Linked DNA regions of Homo sapiens: regions 2, 3 and 4 are each linked to region 1. The links come from fine-mapping of genetic effects on gene expression. A gene starts in region 1. Each other region holds a variant in brackets. All regions are shown on one strand. Distances are from middle to middle.

The links. PIP is the estimated chance that this variant, and not a neighbour inherited with it, causes the effect.
Region 2: its variant is fine-mapped to the expression of TNFRSF1B in whole blood (TOPMed, PIP above 0.99).
Region 3: its variant is fine-mapped to the expression of TNFRSF1B in whole blood (INTERVAL, PIP 0.94).
Region 4: its variant is fine-mapped to the expression of TNFRSF1B in whole blood (TOPMed, PIP above 0.99).

Annotation. Positions count from the first base shown.
Region 1 is chr1:12,161,766-12,169,196 of GRCh38, reverse strand. TNFRSF1B (TNF receptor superfamily member 1B) reads right to left here and starts at 2,206. Exons shown (of 10, transcript NM_001066.3): 1 at 2,028-2,206. The coding sequence starts at 2,105. It overlaps MIR7846 (microRNA 7846), which reads right to left and starts at 2,254; the gene lies at 2,159-2,254. RefSeq lists enhancers at 1,139-1,780, 5,587-5,686, 6,027-6,126, 6,556-6,685, 7,196-7,335 and 2 more and silencers at 1,821-2,050, 2,061-2,370.
Region 2 is chr1:12,140,293-12,148,321 of GRCh38, reverse strand. TNFRSF8 (TNF receptor superfamily member 8) reads right to left here. Exons shown (of 15, transcript NM_001243.5): 15 at 4,115-6,035. The coding sequence ends at 5,791. Among named protein-coding and RNA genes, the nearest start is that of MIR7846, 23 kb to the left of the region's middle. RefSeq lists enhancers at 1,754-1,833, 2,914-2,973, 3,034-3,123. The variant G/A (reference allele first, on the strand shown) is at 4,507.
Region 3 is chr1:12,192,982-12,197,981 of GRCh38, reverse strand. TNFRSF1B (TNF receptor superfamily member 1B) reads right to left here. Exons shown (of 10, transcript NM_001066.3): 6 at 4,884-5,000; 7 at 3,950-4,027; 8 at 3,364-3,398. Among named protein-coding and RNA genes, the nearest start is that of MIR4632, 3.8 kb to the right of the region's middle. The variant T/G (reference allele first, on the strand shown) is at 2,679.
Region 4 is chr1:12,205,850-12,213,649 of GRCh38, reverse strand. TNFRSF1B (TNF receptor superfamily member 1B) reads right to left here. Exons shown (of 10, transcript NM_001066.3): 10 at 4,430-6,910. The coding sequence ends at 6,630. Among named protein-coding and RNA genes, the nearest start is that of MIR4632, 18 kb to the right of the region's middle. RefSeq lists a silencer at 3,092-3,171 and an enhancer at 6,160-6,660. The variant G/A (reference allele first, on the strand shown) is at 5,708.

The DNA of each region.
Region 1 (7,431 bases):
AGAATGCAATCTGTCCTCAAAGGGAACAAAAGGGCCTGGGAGTTCGAAGAGAAGATCAAATCCAACTGAGAATGCGGAAAGGCTTTCCTGGAGAGAATGGCATTTGCAGAAGGCCTTGAAGGATAGGGGTAAGAAGTGTCCCTTGGAGAGGGGATGGCACGGACAATGCTTTTTGCACAATGACACACACGATGACCATCATCAGTTCTACAGAGGCGGGGGAGCACATGTGCAGGGAGGCGCGAGGAAGAGTTCAGGTACCTTACTCTGGCCTGGGATCTCCAGGGGAGTTTCTGCCTCAACCATTGGGAGCCACAGGAGGCTCCCCAGGCAAACAGAGAGGTGCCTCATGCTTGAGAAGGGTCTCTCTGCCAAGGATCAGCGGGAGAGGGGGCAGGGCCGGGAGACCAGCTACAAGGCTGCGGCAATAGTCCGGGTGGGGTCGTGGGGAGCAGGGATGAGGGAGGAGGGAATATGAGCTGCCGCAGGAGCTGGTCAGGAAGGGAAGGAAGTGGGAGGGAACCTCCTCCAGCTACTCCAGGACTGCAGCCTGGTGTCCTGCTGAGCCCTGTGCCTGACACCCCTCTCCCATCCAGGGGCTCACATGACCCCAGAGTTCACCCAGGCAGGCCCAAGCTCAGCGGCAGGAAGACCCCCTCTGAGGCCAGAGTATATGGCATGACCCCAAAGTCAAGCTGGGGACCACGGTCGTCCCCATTCACACTCGGCCCTAGAGTGGGGACTCTCCTGACCCAAAGGCCACCCAGGACTTACTCTGGGGCAGTTCTCCAGGACCCACTCCTGACACCCACTGTCGGTGAGTCAATTCTAGTCTGACAGCCCCCATCTTCCACCCACAAGAACTGGACTCTCTGGCCTCAGATCAACAAGTCACCTTATGTCACCACAGAAGCCAGTGCCACCTCCCACCTTCCTCCTCGGTCAAGATGTCAGATGGGGGCAGATGGGCCATGTGTCCATCAGGGGCGGCTCTGAGGAAGGATGAACGCCCACCTTCCCCGCAGCCTCAGGGCACAGGGGCCGAAGGCAGGAGAGGCCCCCTTTGGAGGAAGAGTTCCCCCCAGACCCTTCCATGAAATACAAGTTCTCTGAGCCTCAGTTTTCCTTCTCTAAAAAATGGTTTATCTTATCTTACCAAACCATGGAGACAGTAAAACAAAAATGGGGTTATCCTATGTTACCAGACCAGGAGACAGTCAAAAACAGGCAAAGGGTGCACAGTCCCTTGTACGCCCGTTGCTACTGTGGGAGTGACGTTCATATTGAATAGGAGCCCTAGGGTTTCTGCTGTCTCCATTTTCCTGCGGCCCCCGGAGACTTCATTTGCCTTGCTCGATTACCAGCCCAGACCTCCCTCGCTTGCCCTGTCCCCAGAGGCCGCAGAAAACAGACTCTGCAGTAGCCCCCGGACGCATCGGAGGAAGCAGACAGGCAGCTCGCCCTCCAGCTGTGCCCTCAGTGGACCTGACACACACCTGGTCCTGCTCTTCAGACACAGGACCCTGGTATTTCTAAGAAATCGGAAAACCGTCGCCCAGAGGAAAAGGAAGTCTTTTGAAGAGGGTGCCCGGCGTGGGCAGTGGGGCAGCGCCCCGGCACAGCCCCTTCTCCACCGCGTGGGAGGGAAGGGCTGTCGCGGCAGTCGCCGGGGTGAGGGAAGAGGGGTCCCGGGTCTAGCGGGGGTCTGCCCAGGACCCGCTGCTCAGCCCCAAATGCCCCGGCCTGCGCTCGCGGAGGAACCAGGGTGCGCCCCTGTCACGACGCGGGTAAGAGGGGCTTCGGGGGCCAGAGTTGTGCCCCGAGCGCACGTGTGCCGGGCCCGGAGTCCCCAGCGGGTCCCCAGAGGCGCGCGTGTCTGATGCGGATGGGGGGCGGCGACTGGGACTCCCAGCCTCCCAGCCCGTGACAGCGCCCCGGGAGAGCGCGGCCCGGGCACCCGAAGGCTGCGCACCAGCCGGGTGGACATGCGGGGCGGCTGTCCCCCGTGGGCCGCGCGAGTCACCCACCTGGGCGGGCAAGGCGTGCGCCGCAGCCCAGAGCTCCAGTCCGACGGCCAGCGCGGCCCAGACGGCGACGGGCGCCATGGGTGCGGGCGGGGTCCGGTTGCCCCCTGCCCTCGCGCCCTCGCGCCCTCGCAGCCCAGCGCCTTCTCTCCAGGCTCCGCTGCGCTCGCTAGCCCTCGACTGAAAGCGAAAGCCCGCGCCCCAGCGGGCCAGAGGCCAGGCGGCGGGGCGGGGCGGGGCCAGCCGGCCTTGGACACGCCTCCCCCACGCCCCTCCCCAGACGCTGCTGGGCCTCCGACCCGACCACTCCAGCATCGCTGGGCCGATACCTCCAGCGTCACTCCCAGCACTCGGGTGACCCCTCAACCTCCTCCTATCGTCCCCTCCTCTTCGAATCACCATCTCCACCTGCCCGGCCTCCACCTGCCCGGCCTCCACCTGCCCTCCCAGCTCCCACAGGCTTCCCTGTCCCGTGAGGGTGAGGCACTAATTTGGAAAAACATCCCCCAAAGCTGACAGCTGCTTTAGGGGAACCAAGAGAATTCTAGATCATTCACTTATTTAGACTCTATTTTAAATATATTTAATTCTTATTTTTTAATTTTTTTTGAGACAAGGTCTCACTCTTTCACCCATAGCTCACTGCAGCCTCCAACTCCTGCGCTCAAGCGATCCTCCCACCTCAGCCTCCCGAGTAGCTGGGACTACAGGCTCGGGCCACCATGCTAGGCTGATTTCTTTATAGAGATGGGGTTTCGCCATGTTGTCCAGGCTGGTCTCGAACTCCTGAGCTCACGTGTTCTTCCCACCCTCAAGTGATCTTCCCGCCTCTGGCCTCCCAAGGTGCTGGGATTATAGGTGTGAGCCACTGCACTCGGCCTGTTTAGACTCTAGAGCCAGACCACCTGGGTCTGGATCTCTGAACTGACCTCATAGGACTATTCTAAAAATTTAAAGATATGTAATATACATAATGCAGTCTGTACTTTATATATACTTAAGTAAGTATCTACATATATAACAATAGGCATTTATAAATCTTGGCTGTTGTTACTACTCTTCGCGTGTTCATTTATCCTTAAACACGCATCCAGCCTTCTCACAGGGAGAAGACTCTGCACTTCCCTGCTCAAGTCTCCTGCCCAGGCAGGGGGCAGATGAACAGAGGCTGGGAGAGAATGTCACCAGGGAAGCTGCAGGGCCCTGAGGGGCTGCTGAGACCAGGCCCAGGAGAGCTGGCTTCCCCAGGATTTACATCATGACCGAGCACCCATTCCAGCTGCAATCTGTCCCCCCATCCCCACTTTGAGTGCCAGCCCTAATACAGGGCCAGCCCTGCGGGGCCAGAGCACATTCCTCCAGCCCTGGATTACGGGGGTCCTAGCCCCCAGCACATAGGGCATTTCTAAGGGTTGGGGTGGGCTGGGTGGCAGGAGGCTATTCTGTTCCCTGTTTCCTCACTGCAGGCTGCCTGAAGAGGTACAGAGACCCTTGCTCCCGGCCACCAGCCCCACAGTGGAGCCTGCAAGGATGGTGCTTCTAGGTGCTGAGTGCTGAGTGAGAAACTGGGAAGTGACTCCCTGGGGATGGAAAACCCCACCTCCTGACCAGGAGGCTGGGAAATCACCTGGTTTCCACATGTTTCTGTGACATGGACCACGCTGAGGGTGTGGCTGGTATGACCCACAGCCTTAACTCTGCAGAGCCGCTGGACAGACATGCAGAGCTCTTCTGGCCCTTATGAGAATGCCTAGGAGCAGCTCCAAGGACTCCTTGATCCCTAAAATAGAGCTGAAGGCAGGAGGGAGATGTCACCTCGTGGAAGCAGGGGACAATAGTTCTCTCTAGTTGTCCCCCACACACCTCAAGACCAATGGGACCAACAGACTGTCTGCACCCCCAACCCTCAACAACCGGCTCCTCCTGCCAGTTTCCCTATCCCAGTGAATGGCACCATCACCTCCTGAAGGTGGGGATCCTCCCAGGCTTAGGTCCCATCCTGGGAACGAATTCAAGCTTAATCTCTATGCAACATGGGGCTTCTCCCCTTCTCCAGGCCGACCCAGGCTTGAGAGCAGGCGACTTCTCTCTGAACTCTGCCAAGTGCAGTTCTTGACTCCAGGGTCAGGCCCAGGGGTGAGGGTTTGGGAAGGAAAGGGCACAGTGTTCCATGGCAGCCAAAGTTGTCACCCATCTGGCACTGGGGACTTTGGGGACAGTTTCCAGCTCATTCTCTCTGGGGCTCTAGTGCAGGTTTCTTGGAGACCTTCTTACTGACTCCACTGGCCACAGCTCCCCAGCACCTGAAATGCCTGCACCTCCTGCTGGCCACAATTCACCACCTCCCCTTCAGCTCCTACAGGATGGTGTCCTCCTGGCTTCTCCTGCTGAGGCCGCCTTACCTACTAGGAAGCACTTTGGGATGGAGATGGTCAGGCTGGCCTCCTCGCTGGGGTCCATGGTTGCCTGCCCTTTGCTGCGCACCAATAGCAGCCCAGCTAACTCTCCGTGCACCCTGGCTCACTCCAGCAATGCTGGCTCAGGTCCATCCAGCCACAGGCTCCTTTATTAAGCACCTACTGTGTGCCAGCCCTGGAGTGCTGGGGACTCAGCAGTGGACAAAATAGACAAGAATCTTCCACCTGTGTTATGGTCCTTAAACTCCTGGGATATGAAGCCCCCAGATGGCTCCCTCGTATCCCCTCCTGCTTGGCCCAAGGTAAGAGGAAGTGCCCTCTCCGCTCCAAAGGGCAGCAGGGGGCACTCAGCCCAATGGTGACTCCTTCCCCAAAATCCTCTCTCTTGGCTTCTCCAACCCCACATCTTATTTAGGCTGGAGGTGGCGATGGCCAGTTCTGGCTGAACCAGTTTGTCTCTCCACATGACCTGCACACGTGGTCCGGGACTTTTTCTTCAGTGTGGGTGGGGGGGGGATTGATCTTGACACTCACCATATTGTACCTGCCACTGGGGAATATGGTAAAACTCAGGGACAGCAGAGGCAGTGTGGAGGGCCTGGACTCTCTCCTTCTGCCCCACAGCCCAGCCCTGGCTCTATCTCCCACCCATGATGCTCTGGGCCTCCCGATGAGGCTCTGGCCTTCAGGCTCTGTCCCCGAATCTGCCTTTCCGTGGAGTGGTCAGGCCCAGCCCTGCAAAGCATTAGCCACTCATGCCACTCTCCTAGCCCAGGATTTCTCAACCCAGAGGTCATTTTACCCCCTCTCCCTCCCCAGCACATTTGGCAATGTCTGGAGACATTTTGGGTGGTCGCAGCTGCAGGGGGCAGGGAGAGGTGCTGCTGGCATCTCACAGGTAGAGGCCAGGATTCTGCCAAACATCCCACAACGCTCAGGACAGCCTCATCCACAGAGAATTATCCAGCCCAAAACGTCCAGAACGCCAAGGTTGAGAAGCAACCTAGCCCATGGCTCTCCATGGCCTTTAGAACTGATTTCAGCCTCCTCCACAAGACACTGGAGGCCTTCATGTCCTGGCCCAGCTGGCCCACCAGGCAGAGCCCCACCACGAACCCCAGCTCTACAGGCCAACTCCCTGGGCATTCGGAGCAACCCTGAGTTCCCACCTCCATGCTTTTGTCCATGCAGGTTCCTCTGCCTGAGGTGTGTTTTCCTCTTTGTTTGTTTGGTGATCACCTACTTGTCCTTCCAGTCACAGCTCCACTCGTGCTCTCCTGTGAAACCACCCTTGACCACACCCCAGCAAGCTGGGCAGGATAACATGGTACGTCTACAGACTATTAGCATAACACTTACTCCGGTATTAGTTGCTTACACGGCCCTCGCCTCTCTTAGTAATTGTGATACTAGCGGTTATGGAAAGATGACTTACACACTTTATCTTGCACCAGGTGGGGGGCAAGCTTTATGGTATGCTTATCCAGCTAATACGGGGTACAGCGGGTTCAAACCTGGTTTGGTGGCCTCTCCATAGCCAAGGGGCTCTTCTCAGCATGGAGCTCTCACACTGCTGAACTGTGTGATACCCGAGGGTAGGGGGACTTGCTCTTGGTTCCCTCTATTTCCCTTGATTGAGTCCCTTCTTGTGCATCTCCTGTATGTTCTGGCCCAGGAGATACCTAACGGGGGGCTTGATAAAGTTGAAGTGAATAAGGACCAAATACAGGATGAAGGGTACGCAGGAGGCGATGAAGGGATGAAGACTTGAGAGAATGAATGAATGAATGAATGAATGGGTACATGGATGTCCGGGTCAAGGCTCAGGAACCCAGTCCAGCCCAATCACTCCTAGGCCCTGTATACCCAACCCAGACTCCCAAGCCATGCATCTGGTAGACTCCCAGCCCCACAGCGCAGAAAAGTCCCCATTTGCTCCTTGTTGACAACACAGTCTTCAAGCAGAGATGGAACTGTGGCCCTCAGGTCCTCAACTCAGGGGCTGCATGTGCAGAATCTGAGCTCTTGGCCAGACACTCCCTGGAGCCTCTCCTCACTTCCCAGCTCAGTCTACAGCCCTCAGAGGTCCCCTGACATCTCCCACCCCAGTAGGTGGATGACTGCACTCCTGCAAGCGAGGGTGGAAGAAGGCAGGGCCACGGGCAGGCCACGTGTGCGAGGACAGCCGGTCTGTCCACTGACAGTTATTGAACACCTACTGTGTACCGGGCATTCTAGTGGATCTTTTGGAGGAGTGGCTTTCCAGCTTCAACCAGCATAAGAATCATCTGGAAGGCTTGTGAAACATGCAGAGTCCTGGGCCCCACGCCCATGTCTGTTGAGGGCCTAATATCTGGCTTTTTAATGGACTCCTCAGTGACTGAGGGGCACCTGCTGAGAAACCGTACAGAGGGTTGAGGTGCAGCAGGTGCTGTGTGTGGCTGAGGGCAGTTTGGAAGGCTGAGCTGTGGTTGTGCTGGGAGGGGCTCTTTCCACCATGGGGAGGTCTCCATGCAATATTCTTTTTGGAGTGAGCTTTCAGAGCCAGCCACAAAGCCAACTCCTTCTGACCTGGCCTCAGGGTCCCAGTGGGAATCTATCTTACAGGGTTGCTTGGACAGCGGGAACCCTACTCCTTCCCTGCTTAAGGCTGGCCCACAGCCAGGGCAAGTAACCTTTTCTTGTCCCTCAGTCCTGCTTATCTCAGCGCCCTGAATGTGCCGGGCCAGCCCCTTGATGACTCATGTCCTAAAATCACGAACAGGAAGCAGCATTTGGTGTTAGCCACAGCTCTACAACTGCCTGCTTCATCTGGCCCTCCTACCGGTCCTCCTCCCTTCCCTGGGGCCACATCTTGGGCTGAGCTGGCCATACCATGCTGTGGGCTGGGGGCACCGAGAAACACCAGCTCTTGTCCCCATCTCCTTCCAAAGAAGAGGAGGGCCTGGGGGTGCAGCACCCCCTCTCTCCCAGTACTCAAAGAGGACCAC
Region 2 (8,029 bases), 21 kb after region 1:
CATGGGGAGGGATTTAGAATCACAAAGTTGGGGGTTGAACTCCAGCTCTGGGACTTCCCAGCTGTGTGGCAGTGGGCCAGTTGCTTCGCTCCCCCCCACTCCCCGAGCCTCAGTTTGTAAAAGGGAGTGCTGCCACCCAGCCTATCTACTGTCCAGGGTTCTATTAGGAAGCCCAGATGTACAAAGAATGCGGCCTAGGCGAACTCTCAGCTCTTAAGATGCTGCTCTTGATGGCTGTCATTTACTGAACATGGCATACGTGCCCAGACTGGACTTCCACAGTCCCTCTCAGCCTTATAGTTCCTTTTCTTTTTTTTTTTGAAGACAGAGTCTCGTTCTGTCACCCAGGCTGGAGTGCAGTGGCACGATCTCGGCTCACTGCAACCTCCGCCTCCCAGGTTCAAGCAATTCTCCCACCTTAGCCTCCCAAGTAGCTGGGATCACAGGCATATGCCACCATGCCTGGCTACTTTTTGTATTTTTAGTCGAGACGGGGTTTTGCCATGTTGCCCGGGCTGGTCTCGAACTCCTGACCTCAAGTGACCCACTCACCTCGGCCTCCCAAAGTGCTGGGATTGCAGGCGTGAGCCACCGCATCTGGCCCCATTAGGTCCATTTTGCAGACCAGAAAACCCACATTGAACGCACATAAGGGCTTTGCTTGGGACCAAGCAGCTGGGAGCTTGTCGAGCCGGAAGCCACAGCTCCATGCCACCGTCATGAAATGGCCACTGCCTCCATGAGGGCTAAAGGGTAAAAAGCACAGGCCACCGCTGACCCTGTGATACTGAAATGATCCCTCTGCCTCATGACCGGGAAAACAATCACCACACCAAAACACAAACAAAGGCCTCCAGGCTTCCCAGGGTTTTTCAGTTTGGTTTTTACTCTCTGGAAGATACCCAGAGAAAGGGGGAAGCTAGACCGGCAGACTCCTAACCCTACCCATAGCTACAATCATCACCAGGAATGCTGTCTTAGTTCTTTCTGAGAAAACCCATCTAACTGCTTCCTGGCTGCCAGCAGCTGCTGCCTGTTTCCCCAACTTCCCTCCAAAATAGGTTAAAACAACCTTTGCCGCCCCTGGTTTGGCCTTTCTCACTGATTGCTGAAATAATACCAGGATGTTTATTGTTCTACTAGGAAGAAAACAGAAAGAAACATAGACCAGTACTTTTATGATAAAATCTAGGTGCCTAATCACAATGGCCCACCAGGCCCTCCTCCCCAGGCCTTCCCCCCTCACCTCCTTTTTTCCCTCGCCCACCGTGCCTCTTCCACCACTGTGTTCTTCCTGAAACTCGAGGCAGGAGTGTGCCCACTTCAGCTCCCTGCCTTCCAGACCTCGCTGGCTTGTGACATCACTCAGGCCAAGTTCAAAGGGCACCTTCTCAAAGAGGCTTGCCCTGACCACCTAGCTAGTGGTGGCCCTCCCCTCCCACTCTGCCACAGTACCTGGCTCAGACTCCTTGTGGTTCACAGCGTGATCTGACTCTGGAATGACCTTGTGTACTGATTTGATGACGCCACCGTCTGTCCCGTCCACCAGACACAGGACCCACGAGAGCAAGTCTGTGCCCCACTAGTCCTCAGCAGCTAGACCCTTTAATTGAGGAAAGCCCTCGAACAGTAATGTGGTGCAATCTGGAATGTGCTAGAACCACGAGTGAGATGTCCCTCCGGAGGGACCCGCAGCACTTCGCCGACATGCCCAGAGTTACAGACGTCGAATAATGAGCCAGTCCTATGACTGTGATCTGAAGGGTTCTTGGGGTAGCCCACAGAACAAGAAGAGGCCTGCCCACTGCGGGGCTTCCCACAGCAAGTTGGCCCCAAGGGTGGCTAGGTTCCCAGGCTGGCCTGAAAGCTCTGATTAACCTTGATGGGCTGAATTCTGCAGACATAGGAAGGGCTCGCTCTTGACAAGCGGCCACCAGGCTGGAATAAGGACAGAACCTGCCACTCAGCACAAGCCACACACCGAGTGGCATGTCAGGGAAGCCCCACAACCCCGTCAGGTAGAGACTGACACCCCCATTTCACAGACAAGAAAACTGAGTCTGAAAGAGATCATGGAACATAGCCAAGCTCATGCAACTGATAAATGGCAGAGCTGGGATTCGAGCCTGTGTGTGACCCCGCAGCGCCATCACCATCCGCACGCTGCTGTTGTGTCTGAGCTGCAGAGAATGGCAGGCAAGCCTCTCTGCCCTGTGCCTGGCTCACACCCATGGCCCCAACATTGAACACCTGCTCCCCTGGGTCAGCCAGGGGCAAGGGTTCCAGGGTGTTTGGCCAGCATGGGGTGCTGGCTTAGGAGGAGGTGCCTGGCAGAGGGGCCTGGTGGAGGGTGCAGGGGCCTGAGGTGTCCTCAGCAGCTTCTCCTTCAGCCCAAGGAGCCCCCCTTGAAGCTGAACAGTCTCGCCTTGACTAAGCTTTTCTCTTGGGCCGTGGCTGTGAATCTGATGTCCCCACATATTCTGGCCCAAGCAACCCCCACCCCACACTTGCCCCCCCACTGCAGAGGATCGAGGAAGTGGGGGGAAGAGAGAAGGCACCCGAGGAACTGTGGCTGGAGAGCCGCCTCTCATCCCCACACAGGTTTTCATTTCTACTTAGCCCAACCAATCAGTGCCCAGTGACCATGGGACAAAGATGACCAAGACCCAGCCTTGGGTCTTTTACACCTCACTGTTGGAGGGTGAGGTCGTGATGGAGCGAGAGACGCTCTAGGGAGGTCCCCTCGTTCCGTTTTAGGGACTGACCCGAGCCGTGGAGATTCTGTGAACTGTAGAATGGTTTTTACCACCTACAAAAGTGCCTTGGGAAACAATGGCTTTTCTTTGAAGGCAACAGCTTCCATCTGATACTTACCACTTGCTGTCCCTCTCTGATCGCAAATGTTTAGGAAGAGGTGTGTGGGGGTGTCGTCACAGCCTGAGAATTGCTACCTTGAGTAGCAGGGAGCTCTGTCCATCTGCCAACCTGGACGTGAGCACAGCCAGAGAATAGAAGGGGTCCGCTCATCGCTGGGCAGGATGGGGAAATCCACCCTGGCTCCTGGACTGAGTGCATGGCTGGTTCAATGGCTGGGCTGATGTGTGGGTGTGGGCTGGAGTCTTGGGGATGGGGTGGACAGGGTCTGTCTGTGGCTGTGGGTGTTCTCCACCTCGCACAGGAGACAGTCAGAGGAGGCCTCAGGCTGGCTGCCTGGGGTGGAGGCTGGCCCTAAAGTGCCACAAAGCTGTGCCCAGGGAGGCAGGCTGGGCTCCTCCCAGCTCAGACACTGAAGCCCAACACTCCCAGATACCTGTGGTCCTCACCCTGCCTCCCAGGGATCCCAGATACCTGTGGTCCTCCCCCTGCCTCCCAGGGCTTGGGCACTCACGCTGTTCCTTGGAGAATCCCTTCTCCAAAGCTATGGGGCTGCCCGGCCCAGCCCAGAGGGAGGAAGGCCATGGGGAGGCCCAGAAACCTTTCTTCGAATACCTAAAGGGAGCCTTGTGACAACAGTGGCATTTTTTTTTTTTTTTTTTTGAGACGGAGTCTCATTCTTGTCACCCAGGCTGGAGTGCAGTGGCACGATCTCGGCTCACTGCTGCAACCTCCACCTCCCAGGTTCAAGCGATTCTCCTGCCTCAGCCTCCTGAGTAGCTGGGATTACAGGTGCCCGCCACCACACCCGACTAATTTTTATATTTTTAGCAGAGACGGGGTTTTACCATGTTGGCCAGGCTAGTCTTGAACTCCTGACCTCAGGTGATCCACTCGCCTCGGCCTCCCAGTGTGCTGGGATTACAGGGGTGAGGCACCGCAACTGGCCGACAGTGGCTTTGAGTGTCCTCAAAGGGCAGCCTTTGGACCAGGGAGCGGCAATTACATGGAGAAAGAATTTGCCTCGAGTGATAAGGAAAATCTTCCAGCAACAAGAAGGACTGCCCCAGCAGGAAGTGGGCTCCCGGCCCCAGAAGTATCCAATCTACCAGAGACTGGCCACCTTAGTGCCTGGGGGTTCAGTGGGAATTCCTGCCCTGCTGGGAGACTCCCAAAGCCACTTCTGCTCAGGGGTTCTATTAATAACATACTCTCAATTTCGATGATCATGTCCTCAGCCTTACAGTTCTTTAAGGATTTTATGGATTTTTAGAGATTCAAAAGTTGTGTGAAGGGCCACTAGGTAAGGAAGTGCATTATTTTGTTGAAACATGTCAATCCCTCCCATCATGGGCGCCAGACTGCCCTGCCTGGCAGGCGTGTGCCTTCCAGCGTGCCTTACAGCTGCGGCTGTGGGTGATGCAGAGACACCCACTCCATCCTTGCACAAACACTGGGCAAACAGTGTCTGCCCACTTAAGCTTCTTCTGGCCAATGTCCAGGTTCTGGTGTAACCACCTCTCGCAAGGCCACGGCTTCTCCAACTTTCCCCAAAACATCTGAGCGGTTTCAGAAACTATCACTTCCTCCAGAGAGCACGTGGCTGCCCGATGAGTAAACAGCAGCCTTCCC[G/A]GGCCTGCCTCCAGGCGGTAAGTCCACGAGTCTCCAGGCTGCCCGCAACTCCAAGACTCATCCTTATCCATCACTCATTTGCATACACGTCTGAAGGCCCTAGGGAGTCAGCTGGCCAGCCGACCGGAAGTCAGGGCCACTACTCCTTAGCGTGAAATGTGAAAAACCCAAAATCCTGATGAAACCTCCAAACGGTCTTGTTTCCTATGGTCCAGAGTAAAGCAGATGCCTGGGTGAGGCCGTGGTGCCTCTCGACATCCACACCCCAAAGCGTGCAGAGCCGGAACCAGGTGGTGGGGTCGGTGCTAGTGGATTTGCAAGCAGGGCAGACCTAAGGAAGATGCTTCTTCATTTCCCAGGACAGAGTGGGTGGGGCCCACAGAGAGCGGTCAAGGACTCCAGGCAGGGCCCGAAGTTCCCCATGTTCACATGGGGAGGAAGTCCCTGGGCAAAGTAAAGCAGGTTCTCTGGGTTGGTGAGGGGCGGTCTGCAGCTGCTGAGGGCTGCAGACATCTGGGACCCGAGGCGCCTGCTGTGGCGGGGATTGGTGGGGACATTCTGAGATGAGTGACTTGATCCTGGGCCCTAGGCCCTGGGCCCACCGAGGGGGCTACAGGACAGGGAAGGTGGGCAGCACCAGGAGGGTCCCACAGTCCAGGCAGGGGCCCTCACACCAGTGCAGAGTACAGTGTGGCCGCTGCAGCAGAGACAGTGCCAGCTGACGACGCCCCATCCCTCGACTTCCCTTTTGACTCTGGAGAAACAACCACAGGCACTGGCTCCATGCCCACTGGGGGCCACATTTACAGTAACTGGGGGCATGCCGGAAGGGCCCAATGGGTGTCACCTCTGAGGTCCAGGGAGAGAGGAGAGTAGGGTTACAGGGGCCCCGGGAGCTGGCCTCACGACCTCTCCCTCGCTGGGCTGTGGGCCTGGTGGTTAAGGTCTGATGCCCAGGGCTCTGGGACCAATGCTGTTCTCGGCAGTGCCCATCCTGCCATCTGTTTGCTGCCTCAACCAACATCACTGCTGGGATCCAGTCCCCTTGGACTGTCTCTTCTGTACAAGCCCCGGATCCCCTAGGCTCTGGGTCAGGGGACAGCTAAGTTGGGGATGCAAGCAGAGACCACCAGACCCCTGCAGTGACCGGCCGGTCCACCACTAGATGCTGGAGCCTCAGTTCAGGCCAGATGGGCCTCTGCCCCCAACCTCGGTGCCAACAGTGCCATCCTGGCCTCCCAGAGGCCACCCTGCTGCCCTCCTAGCCCCAGCCCAGCCCAGGCCTCACTTTCCAGAGGCAGCTGTGGGCAAGGGGTCTTCTTTCCCTTCCTCTTCCACTGAGAGCATGACATCGCTGCAGCTGCCCAGAGGCGGTTCTGTCTCCTGCTCGGGGTAGTGGGGGGTATGGTCCGCCTCCAGCTCCTCCTCCAACTCGGGCTCTGCTGGCCCCGCCAGGCCCCGGCCCTCCGGCAGCTCAGCCTTCACGGTCCCCACGATCACGGTGTCAGCCTTCATGATGTAGATTTTCTCTGCAAGGCAAAAGGATGGGTGAGCGAGGGAGGCCAGAGCACCAGCCAGGATGGGAGCAAAGAGGCAGAGAAGGGCCGAGGCCCAGTGCTGGTACACCTGCCGGGTGGCTTCAGGCTGATGGCACAGCCTCTCTGATGTACCTTACAGGCATCCTGGGGGCTCAGAGGAAATAGAACAGCTAGGAGCTGGGCCTTGAGGAGTTAAGAACCAGCCCACTTGTACTTAGGATTTTCTCAGCACATCTCTGCGGATGGGTAGGGAAGAAGAGGACAGGGTGGGACAGAAAGCAAACTGTGGACAAAAACAGGCAAAGCCGTGGGTAACCAGAGCACGAGCAGAAACAGCAGAGCTGAGCAGTTTCCACACCCCCACTCCTGGGTCCCCAGCCCTCCTGCAAGGCGGACCCCATCAAGATTCCCATTTACAGGTAAGAATCTGAAGCCTGGAGAGGTTAAATGACCTGCCCAAGGTCGCCACGTAGTTAGGAGAAATCCCCCAAAAAAAAACCACCCACTCCGCCTGGTGGCCCTTTCTGCTCCTATCTGTGTGCCTGCAGCCAAAACCCGGGGTGACCAACTTGTCCAGCTTGCCCGGGAACATTCCTGGTTCTACTACTGCAAGTCCCGTGTCCTGGGAGTCCCCTCGGTCCGGGCAAACTCAGCCAGCCTGTCACATCCTGCAGAAAACCCGGCCCCCTCAATAGGTCTCGGCAGCCCATGATTGAGACAGCCTGGCTCAGGCCGTGAATTTCGGGGCTTACTGCTCACAGCCGGTCTCCTGCCTGCAGCGTGCATGGCTGTGCTGTGAGCACATGGTGGGAGCTTGGACGGAGGGCCGGTCCTCGCCACAGTCTGATGTGGGGGCTTCTGGTGTGGCCTTCTGATAGAGGGGACATGGGGGCTCAGGTTCAGTGGCCCGAGGAGCTGGGGAGTGGGGAAGCCTGGCCTCCGCCCAGCTGATGGTGTCTGGCTCAGGGTGGGCTGGCTCCCAGCTGTTCTGCGCTGGACTCTGGAGGCCAGAATGGGGAAGCTCAAGAGGGAACTTGAGAGCTGGGGTGGGGTGGGGGTGCAGGGACCCCTGCCTTTCTGGGTAATGCAGTTATACCCCTCGGATTCAGGAACCCCAAAAAGGTTCTCGAGTCCCCCACACCCTCAACCCTATTGCATGACGCTGGTTCTTCTATTCTGGTTTTGAACACCCCCAGGAAAGAGAGAAGTGCGCCAAACGGCAGCAAGAGGAGAAGGCCCAGAGTGCGGGACAGGCTATGGGCTGGGCGCCCCCACAGACCCCAAAACAGAGCAGGGCCTCAGCACTCCCCACACCTCCATCAGGCTTGTGGGCTCCCAGCCCTAGGAGCCCTATAGAGGGCTGGGCAAAAGATGGGGGCCGGGGGTGGTGAGAGAGGAGACCCCAGGAGGGGAGAGAAGGCCCAGAGGGGGATGGGCAGAGAAGATGAGAGGCGGGTGGGGTCAGGTGGGAGGGAAGTGAGGGTGGGGGTGCTGGATTAGGGAGAAGGAGCCACAGCTGGGGACAGGCTGGTCCCCTCACATTCCTCAGGGAAATGGGCAGGAGTCCCCAGGAAATCTGGAATTAACTGGATTCAAAGCGGTGGAATTGGCTGCTCTGGGTGAGGAAGCAGCTCCCACTGAGCTCGGAAGTGAAAGAGGGGTCTGGAAACTTCAGAGCCGGCCATGAGGGGTCTGCCCCGCTCTGGCTCTGCCCCCATCACAGGCTGCCTACTCCCCAGGCTGTGGGGGTGGCTTCCAAGGGCTGCATGGATTTCCTGCCCCCTCCCCAGAGCTCCAGAGTCCAGGGAATTCATCTTGGCTATGTGGGGAGGGCAGGTGAGGAAGTTGGGGGGAAAGGGGTTCTTCCCTTGCCTGGTTCCCAGGGGAAGAGGGACGATGTACAGACCCCAGTGTGACCCCTCTTGGGAACTGGATGGGAAGGGGGAACGCTACCCTGGGCTGGCATTAGGAGGACAAGGGGGTTG
Region 3 (5,000 bases), 30 kb before region 1:
GGCTAATTTTTTTTATTTTTAGTAGAGATGGGGTTTCACTGTGTTAGCCAGGATGGTCTCGATCTCCTGACCTCGTGATCCGCCCCCCTCGGCCTCCCAAAGTGCTGGGATTACAGGCGTGAGCCATGGCGCCCGGCCACATGTTGGTGTTTTCTAAACAAAGGAACGCCACTGTCTCCCATGCCCTGGACGTTCTTTCTGTGGCAGGAGGAGCAGGTGGGTGCTGAGTCCACACTCTAAGCCCAGCAGCCCAGCTCAAGAGGACTCTCCACTGGCCTCTTATCAGGAGTAGCTGCTGGTTGAGGAGTAGCGTGGGACACAGGCATAAACCTGATTCAAACCTGGGCTATGCCACTCACCTAATGATCTAATCCTACAGGAAAAATGGAACCTCCCAGAGTCTCAGTTTCCTCCTCTGTAAAATGGGGGTGATGATGCTCCCTGCCCCACAGGGATGCGTGGGGACTCAGTCACAAAGAGCCTGGCAGGGCTCAGCCAGGGCTGTGCTGGGATAAGCTCAGGCCTGTGCAGATTTCCTCCCAACTCCATATTCAGGAAGGTCTTGGGAGTTGGAAACTGGCTACAGTGTGAGTGTTTATACCACAGAAATTAGCAAACACCACAAATCAGGGTTTGGGGGTTTTTTTCTGCACTAGACACACCACTGGGGCACTCAACAGATACTTGAGTCACTCACATTCAGTGAACACTGAGAGCAACAGTGAAAGGAAAGGGGCCAGGCGTGGTGGCTTATGCCTCTCATCCCAGTACTTTGGGAGACCGAGGTGGGCAGATCACTTGAGGTCAGGGGTTTGAGACCAGCCTGGCCAACATGGCAAAACCCCGTCTCTACTAAAAATATAAAAATTAGCCAGGCATGGTGGCGCATGCCCATAGTCCCATCTACTTGGGAGGCTGAGGTGGGATGACCACTCGAACCCGGGAGGCGGAGGCTGCAGTGAGCCAAGAGGGCGCCACTGCACTGCAGCCTGGGCGACATAGCTGTCTCAAAAAAAAAAAAAGAAAGAAAGAAAAAAAAAATGGAAAAGGGAAGCAGAGGCTGCTAGGCCACACCCAGGACATCTTCAGTGCACAGAGGATTGGGAAACGCTTGGTGGGGAAAGGGAAGGTGACAGCTGGGCTGCTGCGGAAGAGCTTGGGGGAGACACCTGCTCTACGCACGCCACCAGGCGGCAACCGTCAGTGTCACTGAATTGAAGCTGGAGAAAGGGAGCAGTGAAACTCGCTCGCCGGGGAATGAGAAAATTTCCTCCCCACTGAAATACTGTAGGGCAGGGCAAAGAGCACTGAGATGGGAGTCCAGAGACACACTGCGGTGCGACCTTGAGCAACTCAGTTTTCCTCCCTGCATCTCTTTTCTTGTCACCAAAATCAGGGGATGAAATCAATCTATCTGATTCCAAACACCTGGTGTAAGCTTCGGGTATTGGGCTGCCCAGGGCTGAGCTGTTCCCTCGAGCAGTGGTTCTCCACTAGGGGTGATTTTGCCCTCCAGGGGACACTTGGTGATGTCTGGAGAATTTTTGATTGTCACCACTGGAGTGGGAATGAGGCTGGCATGTAAGTAAATAAAGACCAAAGATGCTGCTGAATAGCACGGGACAGCCCCCACAACTAAGTAAGATATTTTATTTATTTATTTTATTTTATTTTTTCTTTTGAGATGGAGTCTTGCTCTATTGCCCAGGCTGGAGAGCAGTGGTGTGATCTCAGCTCATTGCAACCTCCACTGCCCGGGTTCAAGCGACTCTCCTGCCTCAGCCTCCCGAGTAGCTGAGACTACAGGCACGTGCCACCACGCCTGGCTAATTTTTCTGTTTTTAGTAGAGATGGGGTTTTACCATGATGGCCAGACTAGTCTTGAACTCCTGACCTCAAGTGATCCATCTACCTCGGCCTTCCAAAGTGCTGGGATTACAGGAGTGAGCCACCGTGCCCAGCCAAGATCCTTTTTAAAAATATTTATTTTATTTAATTTTGTTTAGGGATAGGGTCTCACTGTGTTTCCCAGGCTGGTCTTGAACTCCTAGACTCAAGCAATCCTCCCACCTTGGCCTCCCTTAAGTAAGATGTTGTCTCAAATATCCATGAGGTTGAGAAGTTCTTTCTCTACCTGCCCCTGAGGTCGAGAAAACTCATCAGACTCTGTTTTCTCATCTGTCAAATTGGGTAAAAAACCTGCCCTGCCTACCAGGTGCAAGGCTGTGACAGACGTATGTTCTGGCTCACCCCATACCCACTTCCAACCCCCCTCCCTTGTCCTCCTCCTCCATAGAGGCTGGAAAAGCAAAACACCCTCTTTCCCAGCTTCCCTCGCAGCTAGGGGTGGTCATGTGACACTGTCTGGTCAGTGAGATGAAAGAAGTCTACCCAGGGCTTCTGGGAAGGCATCCGATTTACTGATAAGGGCACCATGGCTGACCTGGCCACCTGCCCCTTCTTCCCACCTCAAACTTAGAGGTGACATATGAAGTGATGATTACCATCTTATGACATGAGGCCACAAACAAGAGAACAAAAGTCAACACACTAAAGATGACAGAGCCTGGGGTCCTGCTGGCACCATGCAAGGGGATAGTGGAGGCCATTCCAGCAGACACCAACCCCTTGACTTCTTACAATGCAAGAAAAATAAAGCCATTTTTTCTAAAGTCACC[T/G]GTAGGTTTGGGGTTACTTGCAGCCAAATGCCTTCCTGATGGAGAATGAATGAAATACTATGATATGACACACTGTTGGTCTGTCTCTAACAAAAAGCCTTCGCAGGCCCTACTTTATAAAACAGATCAAAGGTGAGTTGCTTTGGGAGGACCCAGGGCCCAGCCCCACAGCCTCTACCTCAAACCTGAGAGATGACCACTTCCCCCACGCCCAAGGGCCCTCTGTGGGACACTGGGCTATCCCAGAATTCAGTTTGAAAACCACTGCTCTCTGAGAAAGTGCTCTGTAAACACAATGGAGGCAAGGAGAAACATCATTGTCAGCTGACCGAATGGCACCACCCTGCAGGCTGGATCGAGCAGACACAACCCCCATCTCATGGTAAGGAAGTAGCCATAGAGCAATTTCACATCTGCCCAAGGTTGCGCTGTGGGTCCACGACCACGTGCCTGCCACGAACGCCACGAAGGCATCTGCTCTCTGCCGGAGCATTTCACACTCACAGCCTCTCTTAGCCCATGGAGGGCTGCCTGACTCCCCGGCCTTTCCTCCACCTCCCAGGGCTCTGCACACCTCCTGACACTGGACAGACCAATGACAGAATTCACTGCTTCCTCTGTGACAGCCCAGCACGCCGGGAAGGAGACCAGGGGAAGAGGGGGAGAGGGCAGTGGAGACACTCACCACCTTGGCTTCTCTCTGCAGGCACAAGGGCTTCTCTATAAAGAGGAGAGGGGACAAGTAAGAGATTGACTTCCTCAGGCACATCTGTCCTAAGTAGGAGGGCAGTATGGGGCCCCATAGAACCAGCAGAGAGGCCCAGCCCTGTGGGGACCAATCGCCTACCAGACAAGGTCCACAGAAGCCCCCACCCAACTCCACCTGCCACCATCCCAACCATTCTCCAGTCCCCCATCTATACCATCCGCGCCTCCACTGAGGATGCGTGTCCTTCCCTGCACAGACTCCACCCATCAAGATCTTACCCAGCTCAGAGACCACCTGCTGCAGGAAGCCCGAATCCCCCAGGCTTCCTGGATAGGAATCCTGAACTCCTCCTACCCTTTAGAAAACCCTGATCACCTCTTGCCTTTTAGTAATTAAGTTAGCAGAGGTACCTTCACCCCAGGCCTTAAGCTCCTACAGAACAAGGACCCCCATATCCAGCTCTGTCTGACCCCTAAGGCTGTGCCCAGTGCTGGACTCACAGGAGGCACCCCACAAAAGCTTCCTGAACAAGTGGATGAAGGAAGGAAGGATGGACTCTTACTTTTCACCTGGGTCATGATGACACAGTTCACCACTCCTATTATTAGTAGACCCAAGGCTGTCACACCCACAATCAGTCCTAGAAAGAAAAGAGAAGCTCAGACAGCTACAGAAAACAAACTCAAATGTACCAGGGGCCAGCCAGGCAAGCCAGGGACCCAAGGTGCTTCGGGTCATTGCAAATGAGGGGCGAGTCTAGGCCGGAGATTCTCAAATCCAATTACAAAGCAATCATGTCTGTGTGCCTCATTCAGCCTAAGGGCCACTAGTTTGAGACCTCTGGCCTGATGCAGTTCTACCCCAGAATGGAAGCCCCTGGAGGTGACCTGGCCCAGCCCGCTGTCTTCTTAGCCTAATGGGCTCATCAGAAACAGCAGCAAGGAGACCATCTGCATATTCAGGTGAATTGCTGACCCCACCTCTCCCCTATCCAGGGGTTTTGTTTGGTTTTGTTTTGTTTTTGAGATAGGACCTCACTCATTGCCCAGGCTGGAGTGCAGTGGCACGATCAGAGCTCAATGCAGCCTCAAATTCCTGGGCTCATGTGATCCTCCCACCTCAGCCTCCTGAGTAGCTGGGACAATAGGCACCATCCCACCCAAATAATTTTTTAATTTTTTTATAGAGATGGAGTCTCGCTGTGTTACCCAGACTGACCTCAAACTCTTAGCCTCAAGCAATCCTCCAGCCTCCTTGGCCTCCCAAAGCACTGGGATTACAGGCTTGAGCCACTGCATCCAGCCCACGCACTTAGGGATTTTGAATGATAGCACCAGGTGTGGGGAGAAAGCAGTCTCACTGCCACCTGTATCCCAGGACAGGGCACAGGGTCCAGCCCCCCGTGGGCTCTCAGTAAAACCATGGGAGAGGAAGAAAGAGAGACAGAAAGACAGGCAGACAGAAGGAGTGAATGAATGAGACTTCTTGCGACTTACCAACTGGAAGAGCGAAGTCGCCAGTGCTCCCTTCAGCTGGGGGGCTGGGGCCCATTGGGAGCAGGAAGGAGGTGCTTGGAGCAGTGCTGGGTTCTGGAGTTGGCTGCGTGTGTTGGG
Region 4 (7,800 bases), 44 kb before region 1:
TCGAACTTCTGAACTCAAGCGATCCACCCACCTCGGCTTCCCAAAGTTCTGGGATTACAGGCGTGAGCCATCATGCCTGGCCTAGAACTCTTCATTTCAAAAAACTGAAACTCTGCACCCATTAAACACTGACTCCCCATTCCCTCTTCTCCCAGCTTCTGGCAACCAACACCCTACTTTCCATCTCTATGAATCCTACTACTCCAGGTACCTCATGTACGGGAAACATACAGAATTTGTCCTTTTGTGACTGGCTTATTTCACTTAGTATAAGGGACAAGGGATCCTTGTCCTCAAGGCATCCGTGTTGCAGCACGTGTCAGAATTTCCTTCCTTTTTAAGGTTGAATATTCCATTGTACACCACTTTTTTTTTTTTTTTTTTTTTGAGATGAAGTCTCACTCTGTCACCCAGGCTGGAGTGCAGTGGCGCGACCTCGGCTCACTGCAACCTCCGCCTCCTGGGTTCAAGTGATTCTCCTGTCTCAGCCTCCTGAGTAGCTGGGACTACAGGCGTGTGTCACCACGCCAGGCTCATTTTTGTATTTTTAGTAGAGATGGGGTTTCACCATGTTGGCCAGGTTGGTCTCGAACTCCTGACCTCAGGTGATCCACCTGCCTCAGCCCTGCAAAGTGCTGGGATTACAGGTGTGAGCCACTGCACCCAGCCTGTAGATCACATTTTGTTTATCCATTCCACCTTTTGGACACCTAGGTTGTTTCCACCTTTTGGCTATTATGAACAGGGAGCACTGCTGTACAAATATCTGTTTGAGACTCTGTTTTCAGTTCTTTAGGGTACACACCCAGAAGCGGAGTTGCTGGATCAGATGGTAATTCTATGTTCCATGTTTTGAGTCGCTGTCACACTGTATCCCATAGCAGTTGGACCACTGTGCACTCTCCTCAGCGACGCACAAGGTTTTCCATCTCTCCACATTTTCACCAACACTTACTAATTTCTGGGTTTTTGATAGTAGTTGTCCTAATGGGTGTGAGGTTGTTTCACAAATGGGAGGAACCTCAGGGTGTCTATATGCAAACAGGAAAGATCCAGGAGCCAGAGAAATTGATGCTGAAGGAAAGAGACAGGAGACTCACTGAAGCAATGTCCTTGAGCCAGGAGAGATGCTAAGATCCCGTGCAGGGGAGGCGCTGTCCTCAGACCCAGTCACGGCAAAGGCCAGGGTTGTGGGCACAGATGCAGGGTGAGAGGGCAGATGTGGTGGGGCAAGCATGAAGCATTCTCTTGTGTTTTATTTTCTCGGTGAAATAGACAGCAAGGTAACCAACTGAAGGTAAGGGTGGGGTGAGGACAGAGGCTTGGGGATAAAGGAGAACACATGAAATAGTCCATCTAGAAGAGTGGGGTAAGGTGTGGTGGCTCATCCCTATAATCCCAGCACTTTGGGAAGCCAAGGTGGGAGGATCACTTGAGCCCAGGAGTTTCAGGCTGCATTGAGCTGTGATTGCGCTACTGCCCTCCAGCCTGGGTCACAGAGTGGTACTCAGTCTCAAACAAAAACCTCAATTAATCCTTTTATTTAAAAGATAAAATAGGCCAGGCGCAGTGGCTCACACCTGTAATCCCAACACTCTGGGAGGCTGAGGTGGGTGCATCACCTGTCAGGAGTTTAAGACCAGCCTGGCCAACATGGCGAAACCCCTTCTCTACCAAAAATACAAAAATTAGCTGGGCGTGGTGGTGTCACCTATAATCCCAGCTACTCGGGAGGCTGAGGCAGGAGAATCGCTTGAACCCGGGAGGCAGAGCTTGCAGTGAGCCGAGATCGCACCACTGCACTCCAGCCTGGGTGACAGAGCGAGACTCCATCTCAAAAAATAAATAAATAAATAAATAAAATTAAAAGATAAATAGAAAGAGTGGGAGACTGAGTGAATAGGAGCTGGTAGGCTGCATAACCAATGGTTGTCTTTGCCCCTGCAAAGACATTGATGTCTGAATTCCTGAAACCTGGCCAAGATGCTAAGACGAGGAGAGTGTCCTGGATTTTCTGGGTGGTCCGTTGTAATTACAGGTGTCCCTACACTTGGGAGGCAAAGGGAGATCTGACTTCTGAAGAGATTCCGTTGCTATCTCTGAAGATGGACGAAGGGGCCATAAGTCAAGGAATGCAGGTACCGCTGGAAGCTGAAGGCAAGGAATCAGATTCTCCCCTAAAGCCTCCAAGAACAAATTCCCCATTTGAGCCTAGCAGGCCTGGCAACACCTTGCTTTTATACTTCTGGCTCCCAGAGCTGTAGGAGAATGAAATTGTATTGTTTTAAGCCACTGAGTTTGTGTGGTTTGTTATAGCAACAACAGGAACTAATATATCGGGGAGGGGACCTGTTGTCACTGCTGGGCAGCACCAAGGACCCCCATAGAATTTATTCTTTTTTTCCATCCCCCAGGCTGGAGTGCAGTGGCAAGATCTCAGCTCACAACAACCTCCGCCTCCTGGGCTCAAGCAATCCTCCCACTTCAACCTCATGGGTAGCTGGGATTCCAGGTACGTGCCACCGCACCCAGCTAGTTTCTGTATTTTTCTGTGGAGATGAGGTTTCACCATGTTGCCCCAGGCTGGTCTTGAACTCCTGAGCTCAAGCAGTCTGCCCACCTCAGCCTCCCAAAGTGCTGGGATTACAGGCATAAGCCACTGTGCCCAGCCAAGTCTAATGATCATGAAATGAAAACGCGACCAGCCAGCATGGTGGAAGGCCATCATCCTGCCCCAGCCAGGTGCAGACGTGCAGGTGTGGCACAGGCAGAGAGCTGGGTTCAACCAGAGAGAGAACAACAAACCAGGAGAAAGTGCCGTGGGTGCGTACAAGGGAGAAAACGTAACCAACAGCTGCAGGTGCCACTGAGGGAGAAAGACAGGAGGAAGTAGGGGTGGGGGGAAGTGGGATGCTTGAAATTGAGATTAGCGTGCAGTTATCAGTAATGCCAGGCTCTAAGGCACTGGCATGGGCACACCCCGAAGGCCACATCCGCCTCCTGCCCATTCTTTCATGTCCTGTGCACAGCTGTTTTCACACTTCAACAGCACAGGTGAGTGGTTGTTGCAGAAACTGTAAGGCCTGCCAAGTGTAAAATATTGATTCTGGTCAGGCGCAATGGCTCACACCTGTAATCCCAGCAGTTCAGGAGGCCCAGGCCGGTGGATCACTTGAGCCCAGGAGTTCGAGACCAGCCTGGGCAACACAGGGAAACCCAAAAAATAAAAATAAAAAAATTTAAAATTTAGCTCGGCATAGTGGTCCATGCCTGTAGTCCTAGCTGCTCAAGAGGCTGCGACTGGAGGTCAGGGCTGCAGTGAGCCACGATCACATTTCAGCTTGGGTAACAGAGTGAGACCTTGTCTCAAAAAATTAAAATAAATTTGCTCCCTGGCTCTTTATGGAATAAGTGTGGGGAGCCTTGGTCAAGGGTTGAGTGACTGAGACAGGCTGGAGGACAGGACCATGGAGGAGAGGAGGGCGAGAAGCCAGGAGGCGGGGCGTTCCATCAATCACAGATCCTATAATCACCAAGAATGAAAATGGTCCCACTGAGGGAGTCACAGGAGCTGGAGTGACGATGGTGACCCAGGGGGTCAGTGGAACCAATACACAGGCCAAGGTCTCTCTCCCCTCCAAGGCTTTCTTCTAATTAATTGATTTTATTTATTTATTTTATTTGGAGACAGACTCTTACTCTGTCACCCAGGCTGGAGTGCAGTGGCCCGATCTCAGCTCACTGCAACCTCTGTTGCCTTGATTCAAGCAATTCTCGTGCCTCGGCCTCCTGACTAGCTGGGATTATAGGTGCATACCGTCATGCCCAGCTAATTTTTTGTATTTTTGGTAGAGATGGGGTTTCACCATGCTGGCCAGGCTAAGGCCTTTAAACTCAGAACTCCTTTTGCCTGACAGTTCCCTGCAATCCTTTGTTCTGGAAAACTGCTGCTCATCCCTCAGGAGGAGGTCAGAGGTCATCTCCAGAACCCTGTTCTAACCTCCTACCTGGGCCCAGGGATGTCCTCTGGGCCCCCAAAACCCTGTACTGGTCTGAGTATCCCAGGGGCAACCACTCTCCCCGAGTGGGGTCCCCAGGAGGGCAGAGCCTGGCTGCCTAGGCTGCTAGGGATCTGCAGAGACCCCATCCCGGTCCTGAGAGCAGGCCCAGGAGACCTGGAGGATGAAGGCATGAGACCAGGGCACACTTGGAACCCAGCCAGCTGTGTGGTCCCGAGCAGGAAGTTCTCTTATGGTTCACAGGCTTGAGGGGGCGGCTGTAACAGGGGTCCCTCTGTGGTCCAGTCACAACAGGGGCCAGCCAGACTCCAGGGACCGTGACGCCATCTCCCCTTACACAGGGGTGGCAGACAAGTAGGAGCATGGACAAACCCAAGCCCAGACCCCAGGCAGAGCCAGGGGTCGACGTGTAAAACAAACAGGTTTATTGATAAGCAGGAATGCCGTCCAGCATACAGTGCAAACTTTCATTGTCTTGGGATCAACACACACACACAAGGGAACCAAGGCCCCACAGAGTCTCCAAATTCATCGCTTCCCGGCTCTGCCCTGTGATGCCAAGGAAGCCTGAGGTTCTCCCAGGACTGTCCACCAGGGGGCAGGTGCGCTCCATCATGTCCTCATGTGGGTCCAATGTGGGCAGAAACCTGGCCAGTCCCAGCAGTCTGACTTTTTTTTTCTTTAAGAGACAGGGTCTCACTCTGTTGCTCAGGCTGGAGTGTAGTGGCGCGATCATAGCTCGCTGCAGCCTCAAACTCCTGGGCTCCAGTGATCCTCCCCTCAGCCTCCTGAGTACAGGTGCACGTCACTGCAGCCAGCCAGTCTGACATCTTGATTCCAGGGTGGAAAACCCTTCTTGTCTCCATGGTAATGGCTGGGCTCTCCCACCCTCCAATAGTTCAGCTGCCAAGCTCAAGTCCAGTGGAATTTATCAACAATTTATCACCCTGCCCCTGCTCTGCTAGACAATTTCATGCCTTCTCCTTTATCCCCATGCTCCTGAGACTGAGCCTTTCCAGGAGCCCCTCAACCTGCTTCCTCCCAGAATCCGGGCAAGGCTACACTGGTTTCCCCTCTGCAGGGCCCTGGCCCTGGGAGGGGGAAGGCTGACTCTAATGGGGAGGAATCCCAGCTTCAGTGGCTTCAAGGCAGGCCATTCAACTTACCGACCTTGGCTACACACACCCACGACACGCAACACAGACGCAGACACAAGACTGGCACTTGGGATCACACTGGCCATGTACCAAAGTGGCAGGGCAGCCCGTTTGGGGCCCAGGAATTGAAGGTGGGGAGTGGGGAAGAGGAACCCACCCCTCTGGGGGAGGAGGAGGGTCTAGGCTGAGGTAGGAGTAGAGAGATGGCTACGAGGACTCAGTCATCTCTAGTTCCTGAAATTCCCTGAAAGGAGATGGTGTGGCCTAGGACAGCAAGGAAGGAGGCGCGGGGCTGCAGGCACACCGGAGTGAAGGCGGAGGGTGCAAATGGCAGGTGGGGGGTTGGATGTGGCTGGCAGAGTTTGGCTTTGTCGTTGGCTTGTTGGCCTGAGTGGTACTTACTTTTTTAAAAAATTGGCAGATTTCTAGTTAGAAGTGCGTTATCTTGCCCAGGCCACAGCACTGAATATGGTGGCCTGCCTGGGCCCTCTGGGCATCTGACTTTCACACCATGGTACAAAAGGACAAGTT[G/A]GCATTTGGAGGCGGTGCTTTTTTTTTTCTTTTGAGACAGACTCTCGCTCTGTCGCCCAGGCTGGAGTGCAGTGGCGTGATCTCGGCTCCCTGCAACCTCCGCTTCCCGGGTTCAAACGATTTCCCAGCCTCAGGCTTCTGAGTAGCTGGGACTATAGGTGCCCGCCACCACGCCCGGCTAATTTCTGTATTTTTAGTAGAGATGGGGTTTTACCATGTTGGCCAGGCTGGTCTCGAACTCCTAACCTCAGGTGATCCACCCGCCTCAGCCTCCCAAAGTGCTGGGATCATAGGCGTGAGCCACTGCACCTGGCCTGAGGTGATGCTTTCCAAGCCTCCTGAGCTAACTTGAAGGACCCCGTTCCCTACAGGGCTGCCACCTCCTCCCTGCACAGAGCCCCAGGACCATCCCGCAGTCTCAGCCTCAGGCTGAAGCACTGTCCTGTCTTCATGGGTGACTCAGGCAGCATCCCTCCTCTCCAGAAAGCCCCTCTGCAGAAAAGGATGCTGGGGTTTTCTGGAAGCCAGAGCTGGGGCAGAGCCCAGGGGGAGAAACAAACAAACAAACAAACAAACAAACAAAAAACCCAAGGGCTCCAGAAGCCAGGCTGGCAGGTGCAGCTGGGCGGGGCAGGTCACAGAGAGTCAGGGACTTGCCCCAGCATGCCCCGAACGTCCATGCCCAGCCAGCCTTCCGAGAGGGACACGCCATGGCAGCAGAGGCTTTCCACAACTCGCTGCCTCTGCTCTTGGCCTGCAGGTCAGAGGGAGGCTGCGGCTGTGGAGGGCACTAGAGGAACTTGGCCCAGAAAGAGCCTCAGAGTCCTAGTGGTGGGGGCCTGGAAGGACCAGGGCCCCTTCGCAGGGTCATCCTGCCAGGGCTCAGCCCACCTTGGCTACGACACAGCCCACACCGGCCTGGTTAACTGGGCTTCATCCCAGCATCAGGCACTCCAAGGGGCAGGGGCTTCTCTTCGGTGCTCCCCAGCAGGGTCTCTGGCGTCTCCAGCTGTGACCGAAAGGCACATTCCTCCTTGGAGAAGGGGACCTGCTCGTCCTTCGGGGACTCCGAGGGGCTGGAATCTGTGTCTCCCATTGTGGAGCTGGCTTGGGAGGAGCACTGTGAGCTGTGGTCAGAGCTGCTACAGACGTTCACGATGCAGGTGACATTGACCTGGGTCCCATGGCCACCAGGGGAAGAATCTGCTAAGCACAAGATGGGGTGGGGGTCAGTCCGGGGGTCCAGGAGTGGGGCCCAGGGACCCCTGCCCAAGATGCAGATTCAGACACATGGGAAAGAGCACTGGGCCAGGAGCCGAGACCAAGATTCTAGCCCAGCTCTGCTGTGTGACCTTGAGCAAGTCACTTAACCTGCATGTGCCTCATTTTCCCCTCTGCCGAATAAGAATAGCATCACTACCTACCCAGCCCCAATCACCCCAGAGATGGGAGGAGCCAATTATATAAAACAGATGTCTACTTGGGAGGCCAAGTTTGTAGGATCGCTTGAGCCCAGGAGTTCAAGACCAGACTGGGCAACATAGTGAGACCCTGTCTCTTCTGTCTTTTTTTTTTTTTTTTTTGAGACAGGGTCTCAAAAGAGTGCTGTGTCACTCCCTCAACTCACTGTGACCTCTGCCTCCCGGCCTCAAGTGATCCTCCCACATCAGCCTCCTGAATAGCTGGGACTACAGGCCACCGCACCCTGCTAATTTTTTGTAGAGACAGGGTTTCGCCAGGTTGCCTGGGTTGGTCTCGAACACCTGACCTCAAAGAATCTGCCTACCTCAGCCTCGCAAAGCGCTGAGATTACAGGTGTGAGCCACCGTGCTCAGCCTCCAACTTAACTCTTGATTCTACTCCCATCTCGCATCCAAAACCTCTCCTGCTCATCACAGTTCCCATTGCTGCCATCCACCCAGCTGCTTGGGCCCAGAGCCTCGGACCCATCTTTCTCTCATATCACACACCCATCCATCATTCCTGCCTTGTCTCCCTTCAAAAGATGACTTCTGGACCAGGCAGGGTGGCTCACGCCTGTAATCCCAGCACTTTGGGAGGCCAAGGCAGGTGGATCGCCTGAGGTCAGGAGT